Linked DNA regions of Homo sapiens. The protein of the gene in region 1 interacts with the protein of each later gene in a biochemical or structural test. Each region holds a gene or a part of one and is shown on either strand. Other genes may lie near its edges.

Evidence for each region. Proteins that work in one complex are often made in the same cells at the same time.
Region 2: the proteins of WAC (region 1) and RNF40 form a complex in vitro, tested with the Homo sapiens proteins (2 studies listed by BioGRID).

What each region holds. Positions count from the first base shown.
Region 1 is NC_000010.11:28,539,618-28,543,117, reverse strand, and holds part of WAC (WW domain-containing adapter protein with coiled-coil), read right to left. Parts: intron 1-3,500.
Region 2 is NC_000016.10:30,765,322-30,768,821, forward strand, and holds part of RNF40 (E3 ubiquitin-protein ligase BRE1B), read left to right. Parts: coding exon 1-6; intron 7-103; coding exon 104-178; intron 179-841; coding exon 842-961; intron 962-1,057; coding exon 1,058-1,237; intron 1,238-1,419; coding exon 1,420-1,555; intron 1,556-2,572; coding exon 2,573-2,694; intron 2,695-2,781; coding exon 2,782-3,209; intron 3,210-3,297; coding exon 3,298-3,415; intron 3,416-3,500.

The DNA of each region.
Region 1 (3,500 bases):
GGTGCTTAGTATACACATTCAAGTTTGAGGAATGCTAATCCAAAATACTATAATTTCATTCCCCTTAAATTATAACAATCCAAATTTTTTTTATCTATCCATTTAGTTAAATGCTATAAAGTTTCAGGCACTATTCAAGGTAACAGGAATACAAGGTGGATAAAAACATTAAAACTCTCACTTCCTCTTCTGGTGGAGCTTATATTCCACAAAAGGCAAGCAAACAAAAACTAAAATACAGTCAGTTCTGCTATAACATTTGTTTCCAAATAGACAAATTTGTTTGAAGGCTACTGATCTATCAGAAACCAGCAAATTTCCCACTTATGTGTATTTTCACCTGTGAGAAACACTAGCTACATCAAGCTGCACAGGAATTTACAAGGCAGACACAGCTCAAACATCTAATAGCTATCTTAGTTCATCATGAATTATGAGTCAGGTCCATCCACATTTGATGTTACAAGTTTTTGTCTCGTATCAGGTATCTTCCATCCATCACTTTACAGTAATTCATGAACTGCAACCCTTCCAATGAGTGGCCACTTTCACAAGAAGTCAGGTTTTGGTCAAGGTAAAGTGCCATTTATTGCGGTGTTATTCTTTAACCATTTTATACGTGTAAAACTAAGTTACAATTTTTATTAGGTTCCTATCTTTTTAAAATGTGTCACTGACAATGTTTTTGGTTACTGTGCTCCTAACTCCATTTTCCCCATAAATTGGTCTGGTGCAATGTTGCACAGCACCGTGACTTTCAGAAATGCCCATGTCATGTTATAGCAGAATGACTATAAGTAAATCATAACAGGTCACCTTCATACAAGGAAGGAACACGCAGGGGCAAGGAAAGACAATGATGAGAATGACTGTTTCAGAGTGTTCAGCAAGGGCAGAGAAGGCCCTGTGAGAGGGTGACACTTAAGCAGACACATTACTGAAGTGAGTGAGCACAGTAGGAGAAACATAAAGGCACATAATGTGCAGAGCCCCTGAGACAGGAACAAACTTCTGCCTGCAGGGCCAGTATGGAGAGAGTAGCACAAACAAGGGGAAGATAGTAGAAGAGGCTGAAAAAATACCCAGACACCAGATTACACAGGATCTATTATAAGATTTGCTAAGAAACAGGGAGTCACTGGAGGGCCGTGAGCTTGAGAGAGATGTGAGGTGACTGGCATTTTAACTGGATCACTCTGGCTACTGTGTGGGGAAACAATCATACAAAGCAAAATGGACTCGGGAACACTAGGGGGCTCTTGCAGAATTCAAGCTAAGAAAAGGTGGTAGCCAGAACTAAAATGATAAAATAGTGAGAATTAGTTATACTTGGAGTATAATTTGAAGGCAGAGATAAAATTTTATGTGAAGAGACTTCCTTTCCAGTTTCAACAACAGTAGGCTAAATACTTTATAATTTCATCAGTACAACAGGAATAATACTGATCAGCCTATTTCAAAGAGCTACTGTGGAGTCAGATGAGAAACAATATAGAAACCCTTTGAAAATTATAAAGCATCATACAAATCCTGAAAAGGACTGTTCATAGAATATATTTGCAAGCCCCAAATAACCAAATAACTGATTTTGCCAGGGGGTGGAGGTTGCAATGAGGTGAGATCGAGATCGTGCCACTGCACTCCAGCCTAGGTACAGAGTGAGACTGTCTTAAAAAAAAAAAAAAAAAAAAAAAAAACAAAACACACACACACACAACCCCACAAAAATTGGTTTTGTAATTATCAAATTGACAATGAGTTATATCTAGTGCCTGGTATAGCATCCCAAATGCCCAGCTTATTTCCATCTTCACTCTTTCCAGCATCATAACAAAATGATGCACTACCCCCCAAACAATTCTGCACAACAGAATAAGGTAACAGATGCTTAATAGACACAAATTAGAATATATAAATTTTCTGTGAATTACAGACCAAAACCCCAAGTATGTTACACCAAAAATTTTAAATACTTCCTGCACAACTAGAAAACAGTTCAATTAAGACTGTCTTAAGGATCTAAGGATCTAAGTGAACTCATTCCAAAATACTGATTGTAAAATAGAAATACCATTAAATTATAAACAATACATAATAACCATCTCTCTAAAAATATAAAAAGTTAAAATGTGATTATGAGAAGCGTAAGACAAATGACTTGGTACTAGTGTTCAAATTTAACAATTTACATGCACAGATGCTTACATCACAGACACTGTTTTCTAAAATTAAAAAAAAAACAATGAAGAGTTGAAACATTAAGACTGCTACTCCTTCAATCTTATTCCACTTCTCTTGAAACAGAGTATGTTTCCTGTGTTTTCTAAATTGACCAATGGAAATCCAATGCAAACATTTCTGCATAGTATTATCACAAAGCATAAATCAATGAAAAAAGGTCATGTGTCACTATTTTTACTAGACAAAAAATACTTAACATCAGTCAAACGTATTATTAAAATCCAAACGTTAGTGTATTATATTCTATGCAATGTTTCCACTTCGTAAACAAGTCTTTAAATATGAGGGATTAAGAGAAAATGGACTTTTCCTAGTGAAATCTGTGTCATGCTTCCATGTCAAAACTTATTTTTGAAAATAAAACACTGATGTGATAACTGCGCCTAGAACTACACAAATACATCTTATCAAGGTACTATAATTTGGCAAGTTGTAACCACTGAGGGAAGAAGGGTGAAGATATTAGCAGGATAAAAGCAAAAATGCCTTCAAACTAATTCATGCCATAGTAACCACCACCAAATAAGCTTTCAATACCCAAGTGTTTAATCTCTGACAGCATACAAGTTACCGAAGTTAGAGAACTAGTTTCTAGACTGAGCTGTTGCTCTCTGTTCAATTTTATTAAATTTTCCCTCATTTGTAAAACTGGAAATAAGGATACTATCTGTTGTCTTCCAAAGTTAACATGAGTATCAAAAGCGACTGTTAATTTGTATACTTACTTTCTATACAACATTTCTAATGTTAGTAATTTGTAACATTACTAACTCAAAGCATATTTCAAAGTCATCTAAACAACGGTAAGACCATGTTGCTCAACTGCCAGTCTATTATTCAATGTGAAAGACTCAAACGTTACTAAATTATATTAAAAAAAGACATTATCACCAAATAATCCCTACTAATTCCTTCAAAATGTTAATAGTAACTTTTATTTGAAAGTTAGGGAGATGAAAATACATTTCCAAATTTTTCCAAAGATATAGCTAAATGACAAAATAAAAACTTCACTATGGGCCAGGCGCGGTGACTCACGCCTGTAATCCTAGCACTTTGGGAGGCCGAGGCAGGTGGATCACTTGAGAGCAGGAGATTGAGACCAGCCTGGCCAACTTGGTGAAACCCTATTTCTACTAAAAATACAAAAATTAGCCGGGCATGATGGCGTATGTTTGTAATCCCAGCTACTTGGGACATTAAGGCAGAAGGATCGCTTGAACTCAGGAGGCAGAGGTTACAGCGAGCCAGGATCACAC
Region 2 (3,500 bases), on another chromosome or scaffold:
GAGCAGGTGGGGCAGGGGTGCTGGGGCAGGTGAGGCAAGGCTGGGCCCTTGGGCCTTAGCTCCTCCCCTCTACATCCATTGCCTGTCTGTTTTCTCTCCACAGCTTAACTCTGGCTACTATGTATCTGGGAGCTCCTCAGGCTTCCAGGGGGGCCAGATCACACTCAGCATGCAGAAGGTGAGCGGCGTTTTCCTCCCACCCCTTCTCACAACCTCTTCTCTGTTGCACTCTTGAAATTCCCCTCAGGACAAAGGACAAACATCCATCTCTGAGGCCCTTCCTGGTCACTCCTGCTGCTCTTTTTTTCATGCATTCATATACTTGTTGAGTAGATTTTTGAACACTTAGTGCTAGGCACTAGGCATATTGGCGAGAACAAAATAGAGGTCAAAACTTTCATGGACCAGACAAGAAATAAATAAAAGAATATATCTTTAGGTTCTACTTGTGGTAACAGACAAGAAATCAGTAAAATAGCATATCAGTGTGTTATGAGTACCACAAAGATAAAGCACAGAAGAGAGAGCTAAGAGTGAGTTGGAGTCAGTTGGCATCTGGTGGTCACTGTGCCCTTTTTCCCTTTATTAGCACTTTAGGCCTTTCTGGAATGCCTTCCGTGACTCCCCATCAGTTAAGAGCCTTAGTTCCCAGCACCGACCATGCAGTATTGAATTTTCTCCCATTTTTCTGGGAGCCCTTAGGAAAGTACTTGGTTTGGGGTGTCAGAATCGATCATTGCCCTGCACGGGGTGCTTGGGGTGGAGTGTATGCTGGGGATGTAAGGGAGGCCTGCTGCCACGTCTGGCCCTGCCTCCCATGGCCCTGCCTCCCACTCCTTAGTTTGAGATGCTGAATGCAGAGTTAGAGGAAAACCAGGAACTGGCCAACAGCCGTATGGCAGAGCTGGAGAAACTGCAGGCCGAACTTCAGGGGGCTGTGCGGACCAATGAGCGCCTCAAGGTGGGCTGCTGTAGGGGCTGAGAGGTCCTGGGCCTGTAAGGGAGGGACTGAGCCCTGAATCCTGTTGCTGATCCCATTTGGGCATCCCTGCCCCAGGTGGCCCTGCGGAGCCTTCCTGAGGAGGTAGTGCGGGAGACGGGGGAGTACCGCATGCTGCAGGCCCAATTCTCACTGCTCTACAACGAGTCTCTGCAAGTGAAGACCCAGCTAGACGAGGCTCGGGGCCTGCTGCTGGCCACAAAGAACTCCCACCTGCGACACATCGAGCACATGGAGGTATGGCCCTGGAACAGGCGTTAGGGCTGGGCTAAGGGCCAAACCGTTAGTGTTGACGTGTTTGTGCCTTCCGAGGCCCTGTGTGCCAGCCAGGGGTCCCTGGGGAATAGATTCTTCCTAAGATACTGAGTCCTGAGGTGGGACCGAGGGGCTGTGTGGGTCCTTAACACATCAACCCACAGAGCGACGAGCTGGGGCTGCAGAAGAAGCTACGCACAGAGGTCATTCAGCTGGAGGACACGCTGGCCCAGGTACGCAAGGAGTATGAGATGCTGCGCATCGAGTTTGAGCAGAATCTGGCGGCCAACGAGCAGGCGGGTATGTGGTGAGGATAGGGCGGAGGTGGGGCCTTATCTGGGAGTGCTGGGCCCTGGTGTGGGGCTGCTGCTTATCCAGATGCAAGAGGCTAAGGCCTTTTTTTTCACAGAGCCTCGGCTTCCTATGCAAAACAGGGCCTGCACTGCTTGGCTCCCAGGCACAGTGAGGGTCCGCCAGCTGGGGTGGCTGATGGAGCAGGCACATGCAGAGTCTGAGCTGTCAGCCCTGTCCTCATTCTTCTGGTCTGATGACGTCTCTGTCTCTCAGATACTTGTGTTACAAAGATTTATCAAATGCCACCTCTGAGCCAGGCTCTGTTCTAGGGTTTGGGGTTATGCCAGTGAACAAAACAGAATTCCTGCCATGTGGAGCAACATTCTGATAGAAGACAGACTAGAGGAAGACGAACTAGTAGAAGAAAAATGGAAAATGTGTTAGCTCTTGACAGATAGGAAAGTAAAGCAGAAAAGGAAGATAGGAAGTATCAGGAGAAAGGGTGTTGCAATTTTGAATAGGAGGCCAGGGAAATGTACTGGGAAGGTGATATTTAAGAATCTAGAAGAAGTTAACTAACTTTTGTGAATGTTACAGTTACCTTCTCTATTAAAGGGAATTGGATGTATAAAAAAAAAAAAGAAAAAACCTAGGCCAGGTGTGGTGATTCATGTCTGTAATCCCAGCACTTTCGGAGGCCAAGGTGGGAGGATCACTTGAGGCCAGGAATTTGAGACCAGCCAGGGCAACAAAGTGAGACACTGTTTCTATTTAAAAAAAAAACAAAAAACCCCACATATTCTATATTAGCAAAAATCGTATGAATAGGCAGTGTCAAGTTAATTTTGGGTGAGTTTCCTTGAAGTCAGCATTATTTACTTTGATGAGTTCATGCTCCGTTGAGGCCGCAATGTTCCCCTCCTGCACAGTGGGAGTGATGGCATAGCCTCTTACCCCACTGAGGGGTTGGAGTCCTAACCCAGGAACTGGTTCTGACACCTTTACTTGCTGATGCTCCTCCAGGGCCCATCAACCGTGAGATGCGCCACCTGATTAGTAGTCTTCAAAACCACAACCACCAGCTAAAAGGGGACGCCCAGCGATACAAGCGGAAGCTTCGAGAAGTACAAGCTGAGATTGGCAAGGTGAGAAGGGGCCTGCCTGGGAAAAGGTTTGGCTAGACTCCAGTGAACACCATCTGACTTCATCCCTCTTCCTCTCTGCCTTTGCAGCTCCGGGCCCAGGCCAGTGGCTCTGCCCACTCCACCCCCAACCTGGGCCACCCAGAGGATTCTGGCGTCAGTGCCCCAGCCCCAGGGAAAGAGGAGGGTGGGCCAGGCCCTGTCAGTACCCCCGACAACAGAAAGGAGATGGCTCCAGTGCCTGGCACCACCACTACTACCACTTCAGTGAAGAAGGAGGAGCTGGTCCCCTCTGAAGAGGACTTCCAGGGTATAACCCCTGGGGCCCAGGGCCCTTCCTCCCGGGGCCGAGAACCTGAGGCCAGGCCCAAGCGGGAGCTTCGGGAACGGGAAGGTCCCAGCCTAGGACCTCCACCTGTAGCCTCCGCTCTCTCAAGGGCTGATCGGGAGAAGGCCAAGGTGGAAGAAACCAAGCGGAAGGAATCAGAACTCCTCAAGGGTCTCCGAGCAGAGCTCAAGTGAGGCTCTGTTCCTGTCTCCTTCCTGACCCTGCCAGGTGGCCTCCAGTCCCACTCACTAAGACTTCCTCCTGTACCTTCTTGCCAGGAAGGCCCAGGAGAGCCAGAAGGAGATGAAACTGCTGCTGGATATGTACAAGTCAGCGCCCAAGGAGCAGCGGGATAAGGTGCAGCTCATGGCAGCGGAACGCAAGGCTAAGGCCGAGGTGAGGGCAGCTGGGGCTTGTGGGGCATTCAGAAAGGCAGAGCAGAGTCCTAGCTCAGCAGGAAGCAGTGTCAAGAGAGTTTCTT